Linked DNA regions of Homo sapiens. The protein of the gene in region 1 purifies or fractionates together with the protein of each later gene. This does not show direct contact. Each region holds a gene or a part of one and is shown in the gene's direction. Other genes may lie near its edges.

What was found.
Region 2: the proteins of ARHGAP35 (region 1) and CHCHD3 purify together in Homo sapiens (affinity purification with mass spectrometry, with the first as the bait; one large-scale study listed by BioGRID). This does not show direct contact.
Region 3: the proteins of ARHGAP35 (region 1) and MTPN purify together in Homo sapiens (affinity purification with mass spectrometry; one large-scale study listed by BioGRID and IntAct). This does not show direct contact.
Region 4: the proteins of ARHGAP35 (region 1) and CBS purify together in Homo sapiens (affinity purification with mass spectrometry, with the first as the bait; one large-scale study listed by BioGRID). This does not show direct contact.
Region 5: the proteins of ARHGAP35 (region 1) and AAMDC purify together in Homo sapiens (affinity purification with mass spectrometry, with the first as the bait; one large-scale study listed by BioGRID). This does not show direct contact.
Region 6: the proteins of ARHGAP35 (region 1) and MCTS1 purify together in Homo sapiens (affinity purification with mass spectrometry; one large-scale study listed by BioGRID and IntAct). This does not show direct contact.
Region 7: the proteins of ARHGAP35 (region 1) and TCERG1 fractionate together in Homo sapiens (co-fractionation; one large-scale study listed by BioGRID). This does not show direct contact.

Annotation. Positions count from the first base shown.
Region 1 is NC_000019.10:46,919,997-46,923,496, forward strand, and holds part of ARHGAP35 (rho GTPase-activating protein 35), read left to right. Parts: coding exon 1-2,360; intron 2,361-3,500.
Region 2 is NC_000007.14:132,788,591-132,792,090, reverse strand, and holds part of CHCHD3 (MICOS complex subunit MIC19), read left to right. Parts: intron 1-3,500. UniProt on the Homo sapiens protein: Component of the MICOS complex, a large protein complex of the mitochondrial inner membrane that plays crucial roles in the maintenance of crista junctions, inner membrane architecture, and formation of contact sites to the outer membrane.
Region 3 is NC_000007.14:135,946,360-135,949,859, reverse strand, and holds part of MTPN (myotrophin), read left to right. Parts: intron 1-3,500. UniProt on the Homo sapiens protein: Promotes dimerization of NF-kappa-B subunits and regulates NF-kappa-B transcription factor activity. Plays a role in the regulation of the growth of actin filaments.
Region 4 is NC_000021.9:43,058,836-43,062,335, reverse strand, and holds part of CBS (cystathionine beta-synthase), read left to right. Parts: coding exon 1-25; intron 26-1,789; coding exon 1,790-1,895; intron 1,896-3,032; coding exon 3,033-3,110; intron 3,111-3,367; coding exon 3,368-3,500. UniProt on the Homo sapiens protein: Hydro-lyase catalyzing the first step of the transsulfuration pathway, where the hydroxyl group of L-serine is displaced by L-homocysteine in a beta-replacement reaction to form L-cystathionine, the precursor of L-cysteine.
Region 5 is NC_000011.10:77,827,644-77,831,143, forward strand, and holds part of AAMDC (mth938 domain-containing protein), read left to right. Parts: intron 1-3,500. UniProt on the Homo sapiens protein: May play a role in preadipocyte differentiation and adipogenesis.
Region 6 is NC_000023.11:120,617,601-120,621,100, forward strand, and holds part of MCTS1 (malignant T-cell-amplified sequence 1), read left to right. Parts: 3' UTR 1-3,500. UniProt on the Homo sapiens protein: Translation regulator forming a complex with DENR to promote translation reinitiation.
Region 7 is NC_000005.10:146,481,833-146,485,332, forward strand, and holds part of TCERG1 (transcription elongation regulator 1), read left to right. Parts: exon of another isoform or gene 1-759; coding exon 760-895; exon of another isoform or gene 896-1,707; coding exon 1,708-1,797; intron 1,798-3,305; exon of another isoform or gene 3,306-3,418; intron 3,419-3,500. UniProt on the Homo sapiens protein: Transcription factor that binds RNA polymerase II and inhibits the elongation of transcripts from target promoters. Regulates transcription elongation in a TATA box-dependent manner.

The DNA of each region.
Region 1 (3,500 bases):
AGACTTCTCCTTTCATAACTCCCGGAAAGCCTTGGGAAGAGGCCCGTAGTTTTATTATGAATGAGGATTTCTACCAGTGGCTGGAGGAATCTGTATACATGGATATTTATGGCAAACACCAAAAGCAAATTATAGATAAAGCAAAGGAAGAATTTCAGGAGTTGCTTTTGGAATATTCAGAATTGTTTTATGAACTGGAGCTGGATGCTAAGCCCAGCAAGGAGAAGATGGGTGTTATTCAGGATGTTCTGGGAGAGGAACAGCGATTTAAAGCATTACAAAAGCTCCAAGCAGAGCGTGATGCCCTTATTCTGAAACACATTCATTTTGTGTACCACCCAACAAAGGAGACATGCCCCAGCTGCCCAGCTTGTGTGGACGCTAAGATTGAGCACTTGATTAGTTCTCGGTTTATCCGGCCGTCTGACCGGAATCAGAAAAATTCACTCTCTGACCCTAACATTGATAGAATCAACTTGGTTATATTGGGCAAAGACGGCCTTGCCCGAGAGTTGGCCAATGAGATTCGAGCTCTTTGTACAAATGATGACAAGTATGTGATAGATGGTAAAATGTATGAGCTTTCCCTGAGGCCAATAGAGGGGAATGTCAGGCTTCCTGTGAACTCTTTCCAGACGCCAACATTTCAGCCCCACGGCTGTCTCTGCCTTTACAATTCAAAGGAATCGCTATCCTATGTAGTGGAAAGTATAGAGAAGAGTAGAGAGTCCACGCTGGGCCGGCGGGATAATCATTTAGTCCATCTCCCCCTTACATTAATTTTGGTTAACAAGAGAGGAGACACCAGTGGAGAGACTCTGCATAGCTTAATACAGCAAGGTCAACAAATTGCTAGCAAACTTCAGTGTGTCTTTCTCGACCCTGCTTCTGCTGGCATTGGTTACGGACGCAACATTAATGAAAAGCAAATCAGTCAAGTTTTGAAGGGACTCCTGGACTCTAAGCGTAACTTAAACCTGGTCAGTTCTACTGCTAGCATCAAAGATTTGGCTGATGTTGATCTGCGAATTGTTATGTGTCTGATGTGTGGAGATCCTTTTAGTGCAGATGACATACTTTTTCCTGTCCTTCAGTCCCAAACCTGTAAATCTTCCCATTGTGGAAGCAACAACTCTGTTTTACTTGAACTACCAATCGGACTGCACAAGAAGCGGATTGAACTGTCTGTTCTTTCATACCATTCCTCCTTTAGCATCAGAAAGAGCCGGTTGGTTCATGGGTACATTGTTTTTTATTCAGCCAAACGTAAGGCCTCTTTGGCTATGTTACGTGCCTTTCTTTGTGAAGTGCAGGATATTATCCCTATTCAGCTTGTAGCACTCACTGATGGCGCTGTAGATGTCCTGGACAATGACTTAAGTAGGGAACAGCTAACTGAGGGGGAGGAGATTGCTCAAGAAATTGACGGAAGGTTCACAAGCATCCCCTGTAGCCAACCCCAGCATAAACTTGAGATCTTTCACCCATTTTTTAAAGATGTGGTGGAAAAAAAGAACATAATCGAGGCTACTCATATGTACGATAATGCTGCCGAGGCCTGTAGCACCACCGAAGAGGTGTTTAACTCCCCCCGGGCAGGATCACCGCTCTGCAACTCAAACCTGCAGGATTCAGAAGAAGATATCGAGCCATCTTACAGCCTGTTTCGAGAAGACACATCACTGCCTTCTCTGTCCAAAGACCATTCTAAGCTCTCTATGGAACTGGAGGGAAATGATGGGCTGTCTTTCATTATGAGCAATTTTGAGAGTAAACTGAACAACAAAGTACCTCCGCCAGTCAAACCAAAGCCTCCTGTCCATTTTGAAATTACAAAGGGGGATCTATCTTATTTAGACCAAGGCCATAGGGATGGACAGAGGAAGTCTGTGTCTTCTAGCCCCTGGCTGCCTCAGGATGGGTTTGATCCTTCTGACTATGCTGAACCCATGGATGCTGTGGTGAAGCCAAGGAATGAAGAAGAAAACATATACTCCGTGCCCCATGACAGCACCCAAGGCAAAATCATCACCATTCGGAATATCAACAAAGCCCAGTCCAACGGCAGCGGGAATGGTTCTGACAGTGAAATGGACACCAGCTCTCTAGAGCGAGGGCGCAAGGTTTCCATCGTGAGCAAGCCAGTGCTGTACAGGACGAGATGCACCCGGCTGGGGCGGTTTGCTAGTTACCGGACCAGCTTCAGCGTGGGGAGTGATGATGAGCTGGGGCCCATCCGGAAGAAAGAGGAGGATCAGGCATCCCAGGGTTATAAAGGGGACAATGCTGTCATTCCATACGAAACAGACGAAGACCCGCGGAGGAGGAATATTCTTCGCAGCCTAAGGAGGAACACTAAGGTAAGACACCAGTCTAGGATTAGTCATAGTGTTTTGTACAGCGTCTCGGTGAGGGTTGATTGATGATGATTTTTCAAGGACAACCTATTCTGGTAAAAAAAAAACTGCCCTGTGTGTGTATTTGACTTAACATAAAAAAGCAGTGCCTCAATTAGCTACCATTATTGGCAGCTCTCAAGTAGTTAGGACTTTGGATAGATAGTCTGAGTTGTTGTTGCCTAAAACAATAGTTAATTAATTAGCAAAATGAGGAGATAATGCAGAACTTGTCAGTGTCTTGACAAGTGGCCAAGCGCAGTGACAATACACTTGCTCTCCCTTCACTGAAACACCAGAACTCAAAACTGCTTGCCGCAGTCTCTCACTGCTAAACATAACATTTCATCCATACATCTCTTAAATGATCCTTCCTCCCTTGCTGATCTGTAAAGGTTGCTGCATTTGAGATTGGTGAAGGATTGGATGATGATTTGCACACACAAATCAGTGACGAGTCTTTGAGTACATAAATGAAAAAAGAGAATCTTGCCACTGAGAGTTATAAACCTGTCCCGTATTTGTTAAATTGGAATACCATCCAGTCTATTATTTTATCTTCAAGGGAGTTGCTGCTGCTATCAGTCAGAAACTCGGATTTTATTTAGGGATCACAAATGGTGCAGGGAGAGAAAAGAAAAAGTTAACTGTATACATTATAAACATTGGGCCTACTCGTCATATGTAGAGACAGGAGCAAATGAAGTCTCTTTTTTTTTTTTTTTTTTTTGAGACGGAGTCTCGCTCAGTCACCCACGCTAGAGTGCAGTGGCGCGATCTCCGCTCACTGCAAGCTCCGCCTCCTGGGTTCACGCCATTCTCCTGCCTCAGCCTGCTGAGTAGCTGGGACTACAGGCGCCCGCCACCGTGCCCAGCTAATTTTTTTATTTTATTTTATTTTTTAGTAGAGACGGGGTTTCACCGTGTTAGCCAGGATGGTCTCCATCTCCTGACATCGTGATCCGCCCGCCTTGGTCTCCCAAAGTTTTGGGACTATAGGCGTGAGCCACCGCGCCCGGCTGCAGATGAAGTCTCTTATCCTGCGTAGAATTGTAGTTTGTAGTCTGCAGGGCAGAGAGCTGTAAGCAGTACTCTGTCCCCTTG
Region 2 (3,500 bases), on another chromosome or scaffold:
CAGTGTGGGACCTGCAGTTAGATGATGAGTCTGTCAGGGGTCCCCCAAACCATAGCAGAAGTTTCAGTCAGTAAGCAGGCAGTGGGACAGTAGCCACGCAAACAGTTAGTTCAGCTCACAATAAGGACGTCTTGTAAATGAGACAGCCCCACCTCAGACCTACATGCTTCCTGCTGATCTCTTTGGAGAGATCAGAAAGGAACCTGGCCACAGTGAGGAACTTGGGGTCAGGACCCAGTAAATGAGGCTAGATCCTAATGTGACAGCTCTCCAACTTAAGGCTAGTGCACCCCGTTGTCTCGTTTCTAAAATATCATTGACATCTCCAGTATTTGGTTGGCTTCCTAAGTCAAAGCCTCAAGATCAGTGCATATGGAGGAATTTGCCCTGGCACAATTTCTGTCCGCCTTCTGAAGGACAATTTCATCTCCCCGGTGAACTGTATTTATATTAGACCAGGATTCTGCTCCTAAGTCTGTGACATATTTTGAGTATGAAGGGGTCCTGAAAACATAGTAGTAGCTTTTGCTTAAAAATCAAGGTTCTTGAAAGAAAAACCTATTGCCAGAGCAAGCTGTATGTTATCATTGTTTTCAGATGAACTCTACATTAGATGCAAATGATTTAATAGACTTATAGGCTGTTGGAGCTAAAAGGACCCTAGAGATCATATAACCCAACCTCATTTTTTTCATGTGCAAAATTAGCTTCCAGAGAATTTAAATGATCTGTAGAAGGGCAGAACCCAGACCAAACAGCCCACTCTTAAATTCAAAACCAGGGTATTTTTCCTGTCGTGTCAGATCTCAGATGTGGGTGAGCATCAGAATCCCCTGAGGGGTTTGCTTAAAATGTACCCACCCAATCCCCATCCCTGGAGATTCTGATTCAGAAGGTCTGGGGTGAGGCCTGGGCATCTGAACTTTGACCAAATTTCCCAGGAGACTCTGTACCCAAAGTTTGAAAACCATTGCTCTTAGAGCCCATTGGCCTGAATTGCATTAAAGGTCTTTGACCTTTCAGAGGTCCTGCCAAGTCCTTGTTTTCCATCTTTTGGGAGATGGGGAGCTATCACTCCCTATAGGTCAAAGCTACCTGGCAGAGGTCTCATCAGACCAACCCTAGGAATGAATCTTTAGCCTTAAGAACAAATTGGAAGATGATGTGGGAATCAGATGGAAGCCTTGAAAAGAGATCCCCTTCCCCTCTTCTCTTGCTCCCATTGAAACAGTAGGTGACCCCAGTCCCCTGGCTAGCTCACAGCTGTGACCAGACCCTCCCTTGGTTCTACTGCTCCCAGTCACCCTGCTTCTCTCCCCGACCCACATCAGGGTCCCCCCGATGTACACGGTGGCCACTTTCAGAGAGCACGAAGATAATCAAGAAGGTTAACTTTCTGGGAAGCCCCCCAGGAGCATGTTTTTATTGTGTTCGAAAGCTGCTTTATCATTATCGCTTGATGACATTTATTAATTGCCCAGCTGGGATGCTGGTCACAGGGTGACTGACACGTGGGTATTTCATAATAGATTTCCCATTTTTTTGGTAGGGCAGCCCTTTGAATTTAGAGTCAGATCAAAGCAAACAAAATTCCAAACTTTAAATTTCCTATCCCAACCTCTTCCATCATAGGAATCCTTTTCTAAACCACTTTCTGAGAGTAATCGTTGCTTCGTGACATTTTCTCTTTTTTTAAATCTGAGTTTAATAGAAGAAATACTACCATGGTAATAGATTTTCATTTTTCTTAATAGGTATTTCTTTTCCCATGGTCATCCTTCAATTAGAACTGCAGTATGTTAGTGTTTTGTCTGTTATTGCAGCCAGCTGTATAAACAGTTAATTACTTGTAACTTAATTTGAATATTATACAGAGCATTTGTCATAGAAGATATAAAACAAGATCCAGGCAGAAAAAAGTTAACTTCTATTTCCTCCAAAGCAGGAGGAACAAAGAACAAACAGCTCTTGCTGCAGGGGAATAGACACATATTGAAAACAAAATAAGTGATCTAATCAGATTTCCAGGTAGTGAAGAACAGTACTTGGTGCACAGGCAAAACTCGCTTTGTGCTTCCCATAAATTCAATTTATAGATGACTTTTCCTTCCTGTCTTATGCACAGTCTTCTCATTCTGGCTTTTTCCTCATCGAAGCTCCAGTGTCTCCCACTCCCCACTTTTCCTGACCCTCCTTAGTAAAACTCGTGTCTTAAGACCAGGTCTGTGCCAGGACACATCTCCAGTTTCATTTTTCCTTGGTTAGGTAGACCTTCCTGCTTCTCTACCCAGCTTTATGAGGCCTGAAGTCTTGGTGAGGCGCTGGGTAAGTTCATCCAGAGACAAGCACCCTGAGTGGTATCTTAAAAAACAAACCGCTTTTCTTCTCTTCATGATGATTGGTTAGCAACCCAGGGTTGCCATCATTTCTCTTAAATTATCAACACAACCAGTAGCTGGCATGCTGCTATGATAGTCAACCCCTCCAAGAAAGCTGTGATTCAAAAATCAGTTGATGAGATTACTGCTTAACAGAAATATTTGAGGCAAGCGGTTAGGATGGTTAGTAAGGTTTTAATAAGCGGAAATGACACGCAATCTCAGGTCTCCAGGGGCGCTGTTCTTATTTGTGAGCTGCCGGTTGTTCTTCAGTGGCTGGAATGAGAAAAAGACTTGGGAAAAGAGCAGTGTTCATGCCTGAACCACTCTCTTCTTTTGGTGATTTACCCAGCTGTTTATAAAAGGAGTTTCTGCAGGCCCAGATACGTGAATGATGAGCAAAAGCAAGGAATTTCTTTCTCCACATTAAGATTAAGTGTTAGCAGTTCCTTAAATGAAGGAAGCAATTTTTTATAACTTGCAAAGCTTCTCCCTCATTCTTTAGGGAATTTCCTATGTTAATTTATGCAGTGTTAAATTTATGCAGCGTTGAAATTCAGCCCAACAGCAGTACTTACGGAACCAATACAGAGACAGTAGAACCTATAAGGTGAAAGCTGAATAACACAGACCCCACCAGACTACGGATCCCTCCAGCCAAAAGCCCTGAGTTCTGAGTTGGAGCAGGTTTTGTCGCATAGCTGGAATATAATAATAACCCAAAATGTTTGACAGATGAATTCATCTTTTTTAAAAATCCAGCCTGCCATTGTGTTTGTTAATTTCCCTGATAGAATTGAGATGGTTTTGTACCACCCCTGCCACCCTTTGGTAGCAAGTGAGTGCAGTTTGACAAAATGTTTATAGATCAGCCCTGGTGCTTTTCTGTGGTGGTCCCACATGTCTTCAAGGAGTCACCACAAATCAGCTGAACCACTGTGCTATCTTGGAGGATTAGAATTTTAATACATGTAACGGTATTTTGTGAATGTGGCTAAAGGGGTTATTAAAATGTTACTTCTTTTAGTGTCTTTATGTGAGACTGGCCTGCTCATCCTCAGACCAGCCAGGCCCCATCTTGTCTCTTTCTGAAAGAGAGCCTAACATTCTTAGCATGATATG
Region 3 (3,500 bases), on another chromosome or scaffold:
AAGCCCTACTAAAAGAAGCAAGAGAAAAACAGAAATGAGTAGATGTATATAAAGCATTTTGCCACAGTGCCTGATACATAGTAAGCACTCAATAAGTAGTAGCTTTTATTATAACTAAGGCTGAAGAGGATTTTAATGCTTTGTAGTGTCAGCTTCAGTAAGATACGAAGAAAATTGGGAAAGAAGATAGCACATTTATCTCTTAACACTTTATTGACAACTTTGTAAAGATATGGTTCTAAAAGCAGTTAATTTGGGTCCTCTAAATAGAGCTAGGGTTTTTTCTATCCATAGCTTCATGTTAACCACAATTACTGGATTTCTTTAAATATGTTTGTTGTTGTTTGGGTTTGGGTTATATATCAAGAGCAATTTTTATACCTTACTGATAAGAATGATGCATTTGTCCAAAAGCCAAAATAAATGGAAATATTACTCTTTGCCGCTAGTGGATCCAGCATCTGTGATAGGGTGTGCTCGCAAAGATTTCCAGTCACTGTCTTTCTCTTTACTGTTCATCCCTCCCCAAGATCTGCGAAAGGATTACAAAGTACCTTTGAATACTGCTAGATAATTTCATCCCTGGGAAATATTTTTGCTTACTGTATCAAAAACAGATTTGCTGTTTATGAAAGATTTATATAATTTCAATATTGTATTAGTTAGGACTCTGTCTTGCAAGTAACTGAACCCAGCTCAGACAGGCTTAAACAGTAAAGAGATCTTATTAATTTATATAACTGTACAGTTGAGGCACAGCTTGACCCTGGATTTAAGACACATGACCATGATCTGATTTTTTTATTTTTATTTTTGGCCTGTCCCAGGTCTCTTCCTCAGCATTGGCTTTATTTCCATGGCTTCAGCCTATCTGCTAGCTCTCAAAAGAAATGGAGGACTCCCTCCTTACCCTTCGTTCCCGCCTTTTCCCTGACCTTTTTTTTACCCAGCCAAGGGTTTTGTTCTCTGAAAATAAAAACCTCCATGGGATCATTTTTTGCTTAGGTCCCTTGTCATTTACTAAATGAGCTGCCCTAAATGTACTCTTTCCTTCTAACCATATCTCAAACTGTAGATCAGAACAATTTTTCTTTGTGTTAGACCTCTCTGTCCTCCTAGGAAAAACAAAACAGGATATATTTTTTATTCTATAGAGAACCCAAACCATTGTTCTGTACTCCTTATTCCCAAAACATGAGGCTTCAGGTCATTGAGACCTTGTGGTTGTAAGTTTCCGTTGTTAAAGAGTTGAAAACATTAAATGAGTTCCTGAAAAGTTGGCTTGATTTGCATGTACATTAGGCCCTAAGATGTCATCCCAGAAGGTTCTCTGTGTGTGTACTGTGTTGCTAAATTATTGATTGTGAGTTGTCTTACTTTTAACTAGTTTGTTTTTTCTTTTGCTTATGCCCATTTTGTTCTTTTGTGTCTGAACCTTGACTTTTTTTAGCCAAATAAGTGACATTTGGAGATAGCTATGTTGGTAGCAGACCGTTTGTAACCATGTAGAGCTGTTGTTTTATATGAAAGAGATTTTCTTCTTTTTGAAATCAGCATAGTACATTTTAGTTCTGCTTTTTCAAAATTAATTACTTTGATTTTATTATTGCATAAGCTTCTTTAATGGATACCCTGTAGTTTTGTTAGGCAGATTTTTTTTGAAAATTGATTATACTCTTTCAAAAATTCTTAGTTGCTAAAATAGAGTTGTTCCAGTGCATCTTTTAAAAGTTATAATCAGTGTTTATATTAAGTCTAATTTGTTCTGCCTTTTATCAAAAGTAGAATTCTTATGGATTATTATGAATTCACTTGAAAAGACTTGGTTTAAGAACTTTCCAGATTCATTGACATTTCCAATACATTATCCAGTTGATTTATCCTTAGCATACGAAAAAAGGCAAAATAATAAACAGGGATTTAGAAACTCAGTATGATCACAACTAATAGGGGAGAAATCAGAAAAACAAACATGATTGCTAGAATATTTGAAATCAAACTTTATATGATATGCTGTATCATTTATAATTTATTATAAACCCAAATACTTAGGTATTATTATCTCTCTTTTATGGATAAGGAAACCATTTATCTCGGGGTGGTCTAACTGCTTGAAAGTCAAATACAATGTAATGGAATCAAGATTTGTTCCAAGATGTAGGATTCAGCAGCCTGTGTTCTTACTATTACTTGAAATTGCCTTTCAGAAGTACTGTCAGGTCAGTTAATGAGAAATGGAACATGTACATATCTGCAGGTAAAAAGACTTGTGGCCTCATTTTTAATTGGCAAGCTGGTAAATGAGAAAAATGTAGAGATCAACAGATGAGAGGCTTCCATTTCAAAGTTTAGGTGTGAGCACATTCTGTGGTGTTCTCTTTTTGCCCCCAGTGACAGAAAAGATGTTTTTAAAGTGAGTTGATCAGTATCTGCTTTGGACCAGAAGAATTGGATCCATCAAACAAGAAATGATAAGGAAACCTTGAAAGACAGAAAACAAGCAGGGTAGGGCCAAAGAAGAAATTCCCAAATAAGAGCAAGAGAGTATTGTTGCAAAAGGCAAGAGCTGATCCAAGGCCACGCCCAGAGGTGCCTAGTACCCCCAAGCAACAAATGGAGTGACAAGTTGGATGCACTTCAGGAAGAAGCAAATTAAACCCAAAAGGAAAGACTGAGATGCAAGAAGGGGAATGATAAGTAAGAAGTTAGTGTGAATTAGTATGTGAATAACTCTAAACAAATATTTAACACTGAAGTTTTTAAAAAATAAGCTAGAACCAAATAAGGTAAATAATATGAGATGATCAAAGCTTCTGGTATTTTCACCAAATCCAGAGTACCTGAGAAACATGGTAAAACTAGCAAGAAGAAACAAGGGAAAGGAGGCAGATAATTAATGCAGGCTCAAGAAGCATCCTTGAAGAGGTAGCAGCAGCAGAGGAGTGAGAGTGTGAAGAAGCTGATGTGAGTGTATGAGACAGACACTCATAATAGAAAAGTAGCAACTGACCAGTACAGCAGTCTGTGGAGAGGCCAAGCCCAATGCCTGTTTTTATCAAAGCAATAATAGGCAGCCTGTATAATCATGTGTCATTTAGAATTATAATTATCTCAGTGAAATAAGGTTCCCCTTTATTTGCCCTAAAAAATCTTAACCAGGAAATTTTTGGAATGAAAAGGATATTTAAAAGGTGGTATTAAAAAGTCCTTCAGTTCAAAAGTTGGCAAACTTTTTCCTAGGCATACCCTTTTTGCGAAGGCATGCCTTTGCAAACTACATGGTCACTGATGTAACATTGCCATAGACAATACATAAACGGATGGGCATGGCTGCATCCCAGTAAAACTTCATATACAAAAACAAATATCCAGGCCATGTTTGCCAACCCCTGCTCTAGCTCATAAATAGTTTGGAATTTATAAGGCACATCGTTTTAAAACCCTAACCCTCAGTGGTAAGATGATGCTTCCCTAAGTGCTACAAGGTGAGTGTGTATCCT
Region 4 (3,500 bases), on another chromosome or scaffold:
ATCGCGCAAGAGGGGCTGCTGTGCGGTGAGTGGGTGGCGGGCACGGGGGTATGGGGAAGGCAGAGATGGCTAGGGGGCACTGGGGATGGCTGGGGGCGCACCCTCAGTCAGCCACCGACCTGCATGTGTAAGACAGCAGTTCTGAGGAGTGTCACTGCGGCGGCCACGAGCCTCAGGTGTTGTCTGCCTGCCCAGTGTGGTCACCTGCTCAGGTGAGGGCAGGAGGCCATGGGGCGGGGCTTCGAGCTGCCTTCCAGAATGTGTTTCTAGAACAAGGCTGAAGCTCTCATGGCACTTATTGTTTCTAATCAAGTCCACCAGGGCCCCTGGGGCGGTGGCTCTGCATTGACGGGGCCCATGGCCGGGACTGGGTGCTGCGAGCACCCTGGAGCAGCTGGGGAGGGGACTGGAGCCTGAGGCTGTCCAGCTCGACCCCGCTCACCTTCCTCCTACCCCGTGCCCCTCTGCCCACCTGCTTGGGGGTGGACAGACCAGGTGGCCGCTGGCAATGCCACTGACTAGCCACACAGGCAGCAGAGGCCCTGTAGGGACCACAGTTGATCTAGACCTCTGGGGACTCGGAGAGCACACACCAGCTTCTAAAACGCAGGCAGGGACATGTGAGGTTTCTACATGTGCATTCCGTGTGTCATGTCACTTTGGGGGTGGTGACAGGGAAAGTGGAAGGAAACCAGCCCTCAGCATGGCCAAGTCCCCCGTTAGCTGAGCCCCAAACTAGAGATTGGAAGAAAGTCTTGATTGAAAAACCATTTCCCAGCCAGGCGCGTTGGCTCATGCCTATAATCCCAGCACTTTGGGAGGTCGAGGCGGGTGGATCACCTGAGGTCAGGAGTTCAAGACCAGCCTGGCCAACAGGGAGAAACCCCGTCTCTACTAAAAATACCAAAAAAAAAAAAAAAAGTAGCCGATGTAATGGTGCATGCCTGTAATCCCAGCTACTCGGGAGGCTGAGGCAAGAGAATTGCTTGAACCTGGGAGGTGGAGGTTGCAGTGAGCCGAGATCACGCCATTGCACTCCAGCCTGGGTGATAAGAGCAAAAACTCCATCTCAAAAAAAAAAAAAAGAAAAGAAAAGCATTTTCCAGATGAATCTGTCACGAAAGGTGACTTGGTGCCCATAATCGTTGGGCTCTCCCTGTCTCAGTCTCCCTGCTCCCCATGTTGGTGGAGAAACAAGCCCCTGCCTTTGGGGCTGGAAAGCAGGTCCATGGGCCCCGTTACAGAGGAGGGTGCCTCTCTTCCTGTGGGGGCTCCTACTGCAGACTTAGACCTTCCCGACTGCTGTGTGCACCCTCAAACTAAGCCCAGAGAAGACGCCTCTGACTCTGACTTCAGGGCTCCTAGGGACAGCTGGTGTCACTGTGAGCCTTGGTCTCTTGTTTATAAAGCAGAGCCCAGTGTGCAGTCAGGCAGCCTGCAGGCGTGGTGCTGGGGGCTCCGTCCTCGTAGCATCGCTGGCTCTAGGCTCAGGGCCAGGAGGTTTGCCAGGGGCCGCAGCCCCACTGCAGGCATTTCCCTGGCACCAGTGCCCACCCCAGCTCATTATGAAGCCCCGAGTGGACACAGAAACTCCATGGTGCACAAGGAAGAAGCCGATGCTCACGGAGAAGTGGGGTCCTCCCAGCCCCTCTCCCCGAGGCAACCCCTCTTGACGGATCCTTCGGAGTGTGTCTGACATGCTCCCATGCGTGCACGTGCACAATTCATGCATACGTGTGCACCCACGCACGCTCACCCTGGCGCGTCTGACTCGTGGCCCTCTCTGCAGGTGGCAGTGCTGGCAGCACGGTGGCGGTGGCCGTGAAGGCCGCGCAGGAGCTGCAGGAGGGCCAGCGCTGCGTGGTCATTCTGCCCGACTCAGTGCGGAACTACATGTAAGACACGGCTTCCCTCCCAGGTCCCTGCTCCTCTCCATCCTGCCACCCTTCCCTGGATGCCTCTCACGCCTCACCTGAGAACCGGCAGCCAGAACTGGGAGGGGAGGAGGCCAGCGGGGCCCTGTGAGCACCGCCTCCACTCTCCTGCCCACGTGCCCTCACGCTGTGGGGCTTCCCAGCCTCTTAATGCTGTGAAAATCAATGCACACTCGCAGTGACAGCCCTGACAGGAGGGGCATGAAAGACGGTGGCTCCCTCTCTGTCCCTCCTGTCCCTTCCTCTCTGGTGTCTGTCCCCCTCACTGCTCTGGGGTCCGTGAGCTCCAACGGGTAGCCCTGGCCACATGGACTGACGTCCTCTTGGGCCGGGCCCTGTGCCACCTCCTATCCACCCTGACTCCCTCTGCTGCTTCCCCCAAACTCCAGATTGGGACCGAGTGCTGCCCAGGTGGCCCCCTAGGACTTGCTGTGACTGTTTTGCCCAGAGGCCCCTCGGACAGTAACGCCACAGACCTCGCTGGTCACCGGGCAGCCAGGCTGAGACTGGCGCTGCTCTGCACCTGGTCTCCGGAGGCGGTACCAGGGCGGGTGTCTACAGACCCCCATGCCCTGTCCCCTGCACCTGCAGGGTTTCCTCCATGGCCTGCAAGCTGCAGCGGCTACACAGCTCCCGAGAGCTCAGCTGCCCTTGGAGGGCCAGGCCTGGCTGGTGGGTGCCCCCAGTTGGGTTCCCCAGTGTGGGGTGATTCACATCTGGTGCCCAGGGTCAAGATGCCCTGTGCAGGGCTCCTGCCCACCCCCGTCAGTGCAAGAACACCATCTCCCCACATACTTGGCCAGCCTGCCATGTGTACCTGTGCGTGTGAGTGTGTGAGGGGCAGAGAGCGAGCATGAGAGGACGTGTTTATCTGAGTGCCTGAGCGATGGCTGTGTGCATGCTCACACACGCTTGTTGGCCATGGGGGCGGGAAGTCCAGCCCCCAGGCTTCCCCCTGGGGCTTCCAGCCAGCACTTGGGGGTCTCTGCTGCACCAGTGAGGTCCAGGAGAGGGGCTGGGCAGGCAGTGCGTGCCACTCAGCAGGGGCGGGGGCCCGGTGGGGCCCTGCGGGGACTCGGTGACTCCCCCATCCCGCAGGACCAAGTTCCTGAGCGACAGGTGGATGCTGCAGAAGGGCTTTCTGAAGGAGGAGGACCTCACGGAGAAGAAGCCCTGGTAAGACCGCTCGGCCGGAGACCCGCTGCCTGTGCTGGCCCTGCCCAGTGTGACAGGCAGGAGAGCACTCCCCCGTGGCCTGTGCTGGCCCTGCCCAGTGTGACAGGCAGGAGAGCGGTCCCCGTGGCCTGTGCTGGCCCTGCCCAGTGTGACAGGCAGGAGAGCGGTCCCTGTGGCCTCCTGCTGAGGTGCTGCCGGCGGGGGTGCGAGAGCGTTTGTCCTTATCCTGATCCCCCCGACCTGCCCTCTTCCCTCAGGTGGTGGCACCTCCGTGTTCAGGAGCTGGGCCTGTCAGCCCCGCTGACCGTGCTCCCGACCATCACCTGTGGGCACACCATCGAGATCCTCCGGGAGAAGGGCTTCGACCAGGCGCCCGTGGTGGATGAGGCG
Region 5 (3,500 bases), on another chromosome or scaffold:
TATGAAAAACCCATGCCTAATATATGGAATGCTGAAAACTAATTCCTCCCTCCTAAGGTCAGGAACAAGACAAGGATGTTTGCTATATCCACTTACATTTAATATTATACTGGAGGTTGTAGCCAGTGCAATGTGTCAAGAAAAAAATAAAAGGCATCCAGATTGGCATGGAAGAAGTAAAACAAGCTCTATCTTAAATTACTGATCTTGTATGTAGGAAATCCTAAAGAATCCACAAATAAAGCTATTAGAACAAATAGGCAAGCACATTTGCAGGATACAAGATAAATACTCAAAAATCCTGTGTTATTCTGTACATTAGCAATGAACAATCCAAAAATGAAATCAGACCAGGCACAGTGGCTCCTGCCTGTAATCCCAGCACTTTGGGAGGCGAGGTAGGTGGATCACTTGAGGCCAGGAGTTCAATACCAGCCTGGCCAACATGGTGAAACTCCATCTCTACTAAAAAATACAAAAAACTAGCTGGGCATGGTGATGCGCACCTGTAATCCCAGCTACTAGGGAGGCTGAGGCAGGAGAATCACTTGAACTTGGGAGGCAGAGGTTGCAGTGAGCCAAAATTGCACCACTGCACTCCAGCCTGGGTGACAGAGCGCAACTCTGTCTCAAAAAAACAAAATACACAAACAGCAAAAAAATGATATCAATAACTCCATTTACAATAGAATCAGAAAATATTTAGAGATTTCTTAAAAAGAAATACAAGAATGAAAATTATAGCCGGGTGCGGTGGCTCACACCTGTAATCCCAGTACTTTGGGAGGCCGAGGCAGATGGATCACAAGGTCAGGAGATCGAGACCATCCTGGCTAACATGGTGAAACCCCATCTCTACTAAAAATACAAAAACAAAATTAGCCGGGTGGGGTAGTGGGCGCCTGTAGTCCCAGCTACTCGGGAGGCTGCGGCGGAAGAATGGCGTGAACCCGGGAGGTGGAGCTTGCAGTGAGCCAAGATCGCACCACTGCACTGCGCCTGGGCAACAGAGTGAGACTCCATCTCGAAAAAAAAAAAAAAAAGAAAGAAAATTATAAAACATTGTTCAAGGAAATTTTAAAAGACGTACATGGGAAGAAAACACATATTCATGGATTGGAAGATTTAATATTGATAAGATGCCAATACCTTTAAGTTGAAGTACAGATTCCACAGATTCACTCTCCATCAAAATTCCAGCTGGCTTCTTTGCAGAAATTGACAAGTTGATCCTAATACTAATATGGAAATTCAGAGAACCCAGAATATCCAAAACAGTTTTTCAGATGATGAACAAAGTTGAAGGACTCACACTTCCTGGCTTCCAAAGTTACTACACAGCTACGGTAATCAAGATTGTGTGTAGTAATGGCATATGACAGACTGTGTCTCCCCCAGATTCATATGTTGAAGCCCTAACCCCTAATGTGACTGTATTTAGAGATAATGCCTATAGGAAGGAGTTAACTAAAGTTAAACAATGTCATGAGGGTGGGGCCCTAATGTGATAGAACTGGTAATTTTATAAGAACAGAAATAGAGAGAGAGCTCTTTCTCTTCACATGCATATGCCAAGGAGAGGCCATGTGAAGACACAGAGAGATGGCAGACATCTCCAACCCAAGGAGAAAGCCCTCACGAGATACCAGTCAGGCCAGCACCTTATCTTGGATATGCCAGCTCCAGAACTGTGAAAAATAAATTTTTGTTGTTTAAGTTACCAATTTATGGTATTTTTTATAGTAGTCAGGCTGAATAACAAATAGCCATTTGGGTCAATGGAACAGAATGGAGACTCACATATAAACCTATACATCTAGAGTAAATTGATTTAAAATAAACATACCAAGACCATCTAATGGGGAAAGAATAGTTTTTGCAACAAATGATGCTGAGAAAACTGGAGATCCACATAGAAAAGAATGAAGTTGAACCCCTAATTCATTCCATATAAATAATTCAGAATGTTTCAGACGACTACATTTGTGAGACCTGAAACTAAAACTCTTAGAAGAAAACAAGGGTAAATCTTTAAGACCTTGGATATGGCAATGGATTCTTAGAAATAACACCAAATCCACAAGCAACAAAAGGAAAAATAAATTAATAGACCTCATCAAAATTAAAAACTTGTGTGCTTTACAAAAACATGTATCAAAAAGTCAAGACCATCAGTTCAAATGTGGGGCTTAAGAAAGAAAATCAAGTCTGGGCACAGTTGTTCATGCTTGTAATCCCAGCACTTTTGGAGACCAAGGCCGGAGGATCACTTGAGGCCAGGAATTTGAGACCATCCTGGGAAACATAGTGAGACCCCATCTCTACAAAATTCTTTTTTATAGCCAGACATGGTGATGCACACCTGTAGTCCTAGCTGCTCAGGAGCCTGAGGTGGGAAAATCACTTGAGCCCAGGATTTTGAGGCTGTGGTAAGCTGATTGTGCCATTGCACTCCAGCTTAGGCAACAGAGCAAGACCCTGTACCTAAAAGAAGAAAAGAAAAGAAAGTCAAAAGACAACCTACAAAATAGGAAAAAATACATCCAGTAAGAGATTCATCTAGAATATGTTAAAAACATGTTGGGAGCTCAAAAGGCCAAAGGGATCATGACCAACTAAGCATTCCGCTGGAGGCTATATGATCAAACAGCAAACTGTTTATCATGAATGCAGAATGTGGGCAAACTGATACTGCCCTGCCACCAAAAGGTTTGCTGAGGGCCTCACTCCCTGGCAGTGGGCTCCTTAAAGTTATCTATTGAGAAATCTAGCGCCTATTGTTTGAAGAATGCAGTCTTACAAACCTGCCGTGAATCAAACTGCTGACGACACCCACCCCCCACCCACCTCCACTTCTTGCTATCTCTTTTGCCTAATAAATATGGAGGGCTGTGTAAAGCTCAGGGCCCTTGTCCACTAGAGGCAAGGTGCCCCCGACCCCTTCTTCCAAATATACTCTTTTGTCTCTTGTCTTTTATTCCCGCGTTTGCCCCCCTTTATTCAGTCCCATAGGTCCGTGTGGGTTACACAGTGGCACCCCAAACAGCAACAGGATTGGGTGCTCTACAAAAACACATGTCAATAATAAAAAAGACAAATAATTGGCATTTCACCAAAGAAAATATACAAATAGCCAACAAGCAAATGAAAAGATACTCAACATCATTGATCATCAAGAAATAAATAATGAAAACCACAATGAAATAGCACTTTATGGTTGGGCACAGTGGCTCATACCTGTAATCCCATCACTTTGGGAGACTGAGGTGGGAGAATTGCTTGAGTCCAGGAGTTTGAGACCATTCTGGGAAACATGGCGAGACCCTGTCTCTACAAAATATACCAAAAAAAAAAAAAAAAAAAAAAATAGCCAGACATGGTGGCATGCACCTGTAGTCCCAGCTACTTGAGAAGCTGAGATGGGAGAATTCGTCGAGGCTTCAGTGAGCTGTAATCATGTCACAGCATTCCAGTCTGGACAACAAAGCAAGACCCTGTCT
Region 6 (3,500 bases), on another chromosome or scaffold:
GCCAATATGTGAATATAGGAGACTTCAAAAGCATAATCAATTACTCCCTTAAAGTTCATTGTAAGTGTTCTCAGAACTCTACCACCTAGAATTTAAAGACGGGAAGATTTACTTTATAATTTTAATTTCTTATCACAAGACTCGATTGTCAATAACTGTTAACGTCCATTTAATAATCTATGGTGAAATAGGTAATTTCTTCTTATTTTCACAAGCGTGTGAGTAAAAGACTGGGTTTTAAGCAATAAATCATTTGTTCTAACTAAGCACATGCTTGGAAAAAGTGCTATTTTTCCAAACGTATGCCTTGAAAACAAATACAATTCAATTGCCTTTTTGGTTCATGGGAAGCCATACTGCGGTGGCTTCCAAGGTTGGCCAACCTGTTTTTATTCTTACCACCTCTTTCAAAAAGGGATGTTGTCTTTGTCCCCAAATTCTGGTGTTGTCCTATGCTGATGCATAATGAAGCCCTGAGGCTTGGAAACTTGCAAACCAATAAGATGATTTAATGATGAAACGGCATGTCAGTTTGACACTGTCTATTAATAGTCCTTGAGTGAGCTTAAATTTGAGACACTTTTAAAAGCGGCATGTAGTTCCAGTTTTGCTTCCCTTATCAGTGGAGCTTGAGATGTCTGTTCCTGCCGACTGATGTTTTAACAAATTTTTAGTTTCTCATGATGTGAAAGATTTTGTATGCACGTCTTAGTCTGGATACTGTTTTCATTAGTTCTAATGCTGCTGCATGCAAATTTTGTTTAAAACCAAAATTGACTCTTCACATCTGGACTAGATTGGACATGGTGAGGAGGCTGGAAGGAAAGTCCTTTTTGCTCTGTAGGCTCTGGACAGCTTTCTTAGAGTTGACTTATCCAGGATTAAGAAAAAGTTTTCTTTTGCGTGACTAAATTCTTTCCACAGTTTGCTTGTGTAAGCATTTTAGATTTAAGCAAGTTCAACTTGAAATATATTTGAATATGAAGTAGAAACAGCTTCATTTAATGGGATAATAGCAATCTCTAACCCATCAAATTAATATCTACTAAATAGCTTCCAAAAAGCACTGACTGGAAAATATTTTTCACTATCATGGCTTTATTCAGTTTCAAAAACAGTAGGGGCTAAAATGTTTGGACATTTATCCTGCATTTATTTTGTGTTTCACAAGGTTAAAATTTTGTATTTTGTAAAGTGTCTGAAAAGGAGTCCACAAAGTATTTCTGCTTTCTTGCTCCTGAATGCAAAGGTCTGAGAGAAGGCACATCCTCATTAGCTTCTGGGTGTTGTCAAACCCAATCCTCTCTCAAGTACCAAATGCCCAGATACATTTATTGGGATGCAGGAATCTCACTTAAGTAGCGGTTTTTGCTGATATAAAGACAAACATCTTGATTAAAGTGTAGGGAGATAGAAACTATACCAATTTGGGCAATTTTGGCTCTAATGTCTAATTTGTTGTGAAAGGGGAAGATGTTCTAAGCTAATGTTCTTAAAAGTAACTTATGAATTTCTTAAAAATAGTTTTTAAAAAGCTGTTTCAGGAAAAGCTGTTTTATTGCATGGCACAGATTAAATGTACAGATGTTATCTTAAAACAATGAAAGAGTTCCCCTAATTTGAATATTCAATACCAGCTGTTATTCACATCAATATTTTAACATTTTACCATCAAGATATTTAATACAAAGGATTGATACATATTTAACTGTTTAGAATTCTAGTTAAACTTGTCCAGATGAGTAAGAGGGAAGGAGAAATAACATTCTCCAAGTACCTACCATGTGCACAAGCTCTACTTATATATCTTGCTTAATCTTAGCAATGATTCCATGAGGTAGATTTTAACTCTCATTTTACAAACGAGGAGACTAAGGCTCAGAGAGGTCATACAACTTCAGGAAAGTTGTATGACCTCTCTGAGGTAATAAATGGCAGAACTGGAATTTGAACCTAAGTCTCCTTGTCTGCAAATCCTGTGTTTTGCAGAAAACTCTCCTCTTGTATTTCATAAAATGTTAAATCTTGGCCCAAATTCAAATCACCATCTTTATGGGTTATTGGAGAGAGGTATAAGTTGGCAAGACTCTGTTCCACGATGGGAAAAAATGGGTAGGATTTGAATGAGTAAGAGTGGGATACTTGCACAGTATCATATTTGTGTGGCTGGAGTAATGTTTTTCTGTTTCCCTCTTAGCAAAGTGGAGTGGGAGAATCTTGAAATTGAACTCAGTCCTGAGGTCTGATTTTCCTATTATTAGTCACTTTCAAGCCAGGTGATTTGTGACCATTTAAATGTTATGCTATTTCAAAGTCTTCTACATCTTTAGAAAAGGACATGAGGGAGGGTTAGTTAAGTGGGGCAATGAGAATGTAGAGTGTAATGTGCAAAAGCAGGACTAGCAGTTGCTTTGAAGATATCTGGGGAAGGCCGGGCACGGTGGTTCACGCCTGTAATCCCAGTACTTTGGGAGGCCAAGGTGGGCGGATCACGAGGTCAGGAGATCGAGACCATCCTGGCTAACGTGAAACCCCGTCTATACTAAAAATACAAAAAATTAACCGGACGCAGTGGTGGGCGCCTGTAGTCCCAGCTACTCGGGAGGCTGAGGCAGGAGAGTGGCATGAACCCGGGAGGCGGAGCTTGCAGTGAGCTGAGATCGCACCACTGCATTCCAGCCTGGACAACAGAGCGAAACTCCGTCTCAAAAACCAACCAAACAAAAAACAAAAATTAGCTGGGCATGGTGGCGCGTGCCTGTAATCCCAGCACTTTGGGAGCCAAGGTGGGTGGATCATGAGGTCAGAAGATTGAGACCACCCTGGCCAACATGGTGAAATCCTGTCTCTACTAAAAATACAAAAAAAAAAAAAAAAAAAAAAATTAGCCGGGCGTGGTGGCGCGTGCCTGTAATCCCAGCTACACAGGAGGCTGAGGCAGGAGATTTGCTTGAACCTGGGAGGCGGAGGTTGCAGTGAGCCGAGATTGTGCCACTGCACTCCAGCCTGGGCGACAGAGCAAGACTCCGTCTAAAAAAAAAAAAAAGATATTAAAATTAATGACAGGAAGAGTTTGGGTTCAGTTATAATTTAAGGGAAAAAACATTGAGGGGCCTAATCTACATTTTGCTCCGGATCCAATGATTTAATTTTTGGGAAGAAAAATCCAGTGATTAAAGTCATGCAAGGAGATGGCCTGGGGCTTGCTAAAAGTCAGGTTGCAGTTTCCATTGCATTCAAGAAAATCAGAAAAATAAATACAACTTTTAGAAGAAACTAAGTTTTCTCCCATTCATGTTTAGCTATTGGGGGGTCTCATACTTCTGGACTTGCTTAGACCTATGCTATCTAATATGGTAGCCTCTGCCCATCCATATGTGGCCACTGAGAACTTGAAATGTGACTAGTTTGAATTAAGATGTGCTGTAACTAAAATACACCCTGGATTTCAAAGACTTAATAAATAATGTAAATTATCTATTCTTTCCTGTTGATTATAT
Region 7 (3,500 bases), on another chromosome or scaffold:
CTTGAGTACCACACAGAAACAGGGTTGCCCTTACACCTGAGGTGCATTTTTGGAGGAACAAGAAGTAGTTTAGTCATTGATGAACAGTTCTAATTCCACCTAACTACTCCTGGGCCCATGTTGCTCTCTGGGACCTGTCCTTCAACTTAAATCTCAACTTATCACCCAGAAAGTGAGTAATAAAAAGTCAGGTAGGTAAGGTATATATCTTACATATTCACTTGGCCAAGATTGCAGATATTTTAGTTTTATTTTTAAAATGAATGTTTGAGATTACTAAAACATTATACCACTTAATACCAATTTTTATTAGATTTTACAAAATATTTTATGTGTTTATAATGTAAAACATTTTGGAAAATACTGTTTTTTCTATATTTCAAGAACTAAAAAAATTATATTTTGTGCTGTTTGATTCTGACACATAGAGGTTTACTGCAGTGTTAAACTTTTTTTTTTTTAAGTAAGGTTGCTCCCTTTTTATGTTATTAACCAGTGTCAGGGAGAGACAGCCCATTAAAGGTGTATTTTTTTCCTAATAATGTAGCCATTGTAAATCATTAGAAGCCCATTTTAATTTTGTTATTATGAAAGTTATTTATCCCTTAGAGTTCATTTGAAACCCTCAATATAATTTGTTTTTGCCAAAAATATGCTGCTCAGTAGTGAGTCTTGAAAATTCCTTTGATTTTAAGATTTCTAATAAGATCTGAGAATTAATATTTTGTCAGTTGATGTCTTATATTTTATTTTTTATAGGAGAGACGATAATAAAGACATTGACTCAGAGAAAGAAGCTGCCATGGAAGCTGAAATTAAAGCTGCCCGAGAAAGGGCCATTGTCCCTCTGGAGGCTCGAATGAAGCAGTTCAAGGACATGCTGCTAGAGAGAGGGGTCAGAAAACAATCTTTGGGGGAGATATTTCTGTTTTGTATAAGTAATATAAATATGTCTTGCTAAAAGGTCAAATCTAAGGTTAGTGCTCATGTTATGGGGGGGGATAAGGGGATTTTTAAAATTACTGTACATTTTTTGCAACAGCCTTTTTCTTGGCTAATCTTATCATATTTAACTAAATGCCATTTTACTGTCCTTTTAAGTACAAATAACACTTAACATTTATTGGGTCATTAAATTGTGGTGAGTAATATAAGACGAGTATTAACATTACAGAATGGCGGACTGCTTGGGATAGGTAAGGTATATATGATTATTCTTCCTTTAATATCTTGAGAATGGCTTTTGTTAAAGGAGAACTGATACTTTGTGATATTATTATTTGCAATTTAATTGAGAAGGGATTTCAACTATTTGGTTATATTCACAGATTCATTTGAATAAGTAAAATTGTTCAATTTTAAATCACAACATTGTTCACAAGATTGGAGCAAGCATGAGAAATCAAAATATAAATCTTCAAGGCTTTTTCTGATGTACTGATTTTTAAAATGTCACACAGTAGTAGTTATTTTAATGAGTAATTAAGTGTCTGTTATTTCTATATAATATAGGAATGTTCAGAGCCAATTAGTGTGGAAATTTGCTATTGCTAGCCTCCCACTGCTTGTCATTTATTAGTGATGGAAACTTCAGTATGGTTTTATGTCTCCTTTATAAACAGATATCCTGTAGATTTCAAGCAAAATTATGACCTTTATATTTTTAGAGGAGACTTAATTATGAGGCAATACGTTTTTATTTTAAAGGTGTCTGCTTTTTCAACGTGGGAGAAGGAGTTGCACAAGATAGTTTTTGATCCCCGGTACTTACTTCTCAATCCTAAAGAGAGAAAACAGGTAAAAGGAAAATGGCATTAACTAAGAATGTATATCTCTTGCCAACATAGTTTTTAAATTATAAGGAATAAAGTACCATCCCTTTTTTTTCTGATACAGCATTTCAAAAATATAGTCTTGCATCTTAGAACATATTATGTGTCTGTGTGTGGACATTTCTACTTCAAAATTCTTGGATATTTTTGCCCTTATGAGCATGGCTGTTGTCTTGTAAACATTTTGTCCTTATGCCTCATATACCTAGGTTATGTGTAGTATGGTTTTAAAATTGATTTCAAATGCATTTACTAATTTGCTTGTTTGGGCCAATGATGCAAATTTAGAGTAGAAAAATAGCAAAATACAGATGAGTAAAAAGGATAAAAAAGCTACTGTAATCCCAACTAATAGATATGACTACCGTTGAACACTGGTTTATTATTGAATACTGAACAGCCTTCTTGACCATTATGTGTCAGTATGTACATATATATGTGTGTGTGTGTCCTGTAGATAGTACTTGAACATAGGTTTATGTCTTATACACAACTGCATATACAAAGTTCACATCTAAGTAGCATCTGTTAAAATATCTGTTTCCATCATAAACTCAGAAAAACAGTGGATACTTAAGGGTCCCTGTTGAATTAGTGTTGCTTTTTATTCCCATGATGATTCAGTGACACATATCATTTCGTGATTGCCTCTTCTAAAGCATTGCACACTTCCAACTTACTTAATTTCTGAATTACCTGAACTATCCTGACACTGATCTCCATAAAATGGTGAGTATGTGGAACCACTTGCTATAGTGCTGTTAAGCTGTAAGATTTCATTTGGTAACAGTAGTGCCCATCTTTGATATTTTTAATGTAACAATTGAAATAATTCTTCACATGGTGTGTACCATTATGCATGTAGGTCTAATCATGGACTTGAATGAAGGGAGAAAATTTACAATGTGCCAGATATGTATTTTAGTACTTGGAATAGAAAGACATAACTTCCTTAATGTATTTGCATCTTCATTTTAAGCTTTGTATCTTTTTTAAAAAACAAACTCTGTGTGAGTTTTTTATTCTCATTTCAGTTTATGGCTCTATCAAAATTTATAAATTAGCCTTGATTCCTTACTTTTCCCACTTCCCCTTTACAGTCTTATCAGCAAATCTATAATCTACCTTCAAAAAATTTTCAAAATCTCACCTTTTATTAATCATTTCCCCCATTAACACCCTAATCCAAGCCACCATAAACAACCCTTATCATCTGTGTAGCCTATTGTTGATCTCCTTCATTCCATCTGTTCTTGTTCCTCTTTAGTCAAGTTCTTTTTCCACACAGCAGCCAGGCTAATTTTAAAGTTTAAGTGATACTAAATTAAGTCACTGTTCCCTTGCTTAAAACTGTTTAGTGCTTTCCATTTCATTGAGAATAAAATTGAAGCTCTTTTCATGGTCTCTAATATTCTACATAGACTTACCCCTGTATACCTCTTGATGGTCTTTTTTAATGTCTGTTGATTACAGCCACACTGGCCCTGATATTACTTGAACAAGCCAGTCATTCTGGTGTTTGCTATTCCTTCTGCCTGGACTGTTTTTCCTCCAGGTGTTAGTACAGCCAGCTTCATTTCATTAAGGTACTTGTCCCAGTGCCTTCTAATCAATCTAAGTATTGTCTCTTTGCCTTTTCTAATTTCTTTATGGTGCTCATGGCTCTAA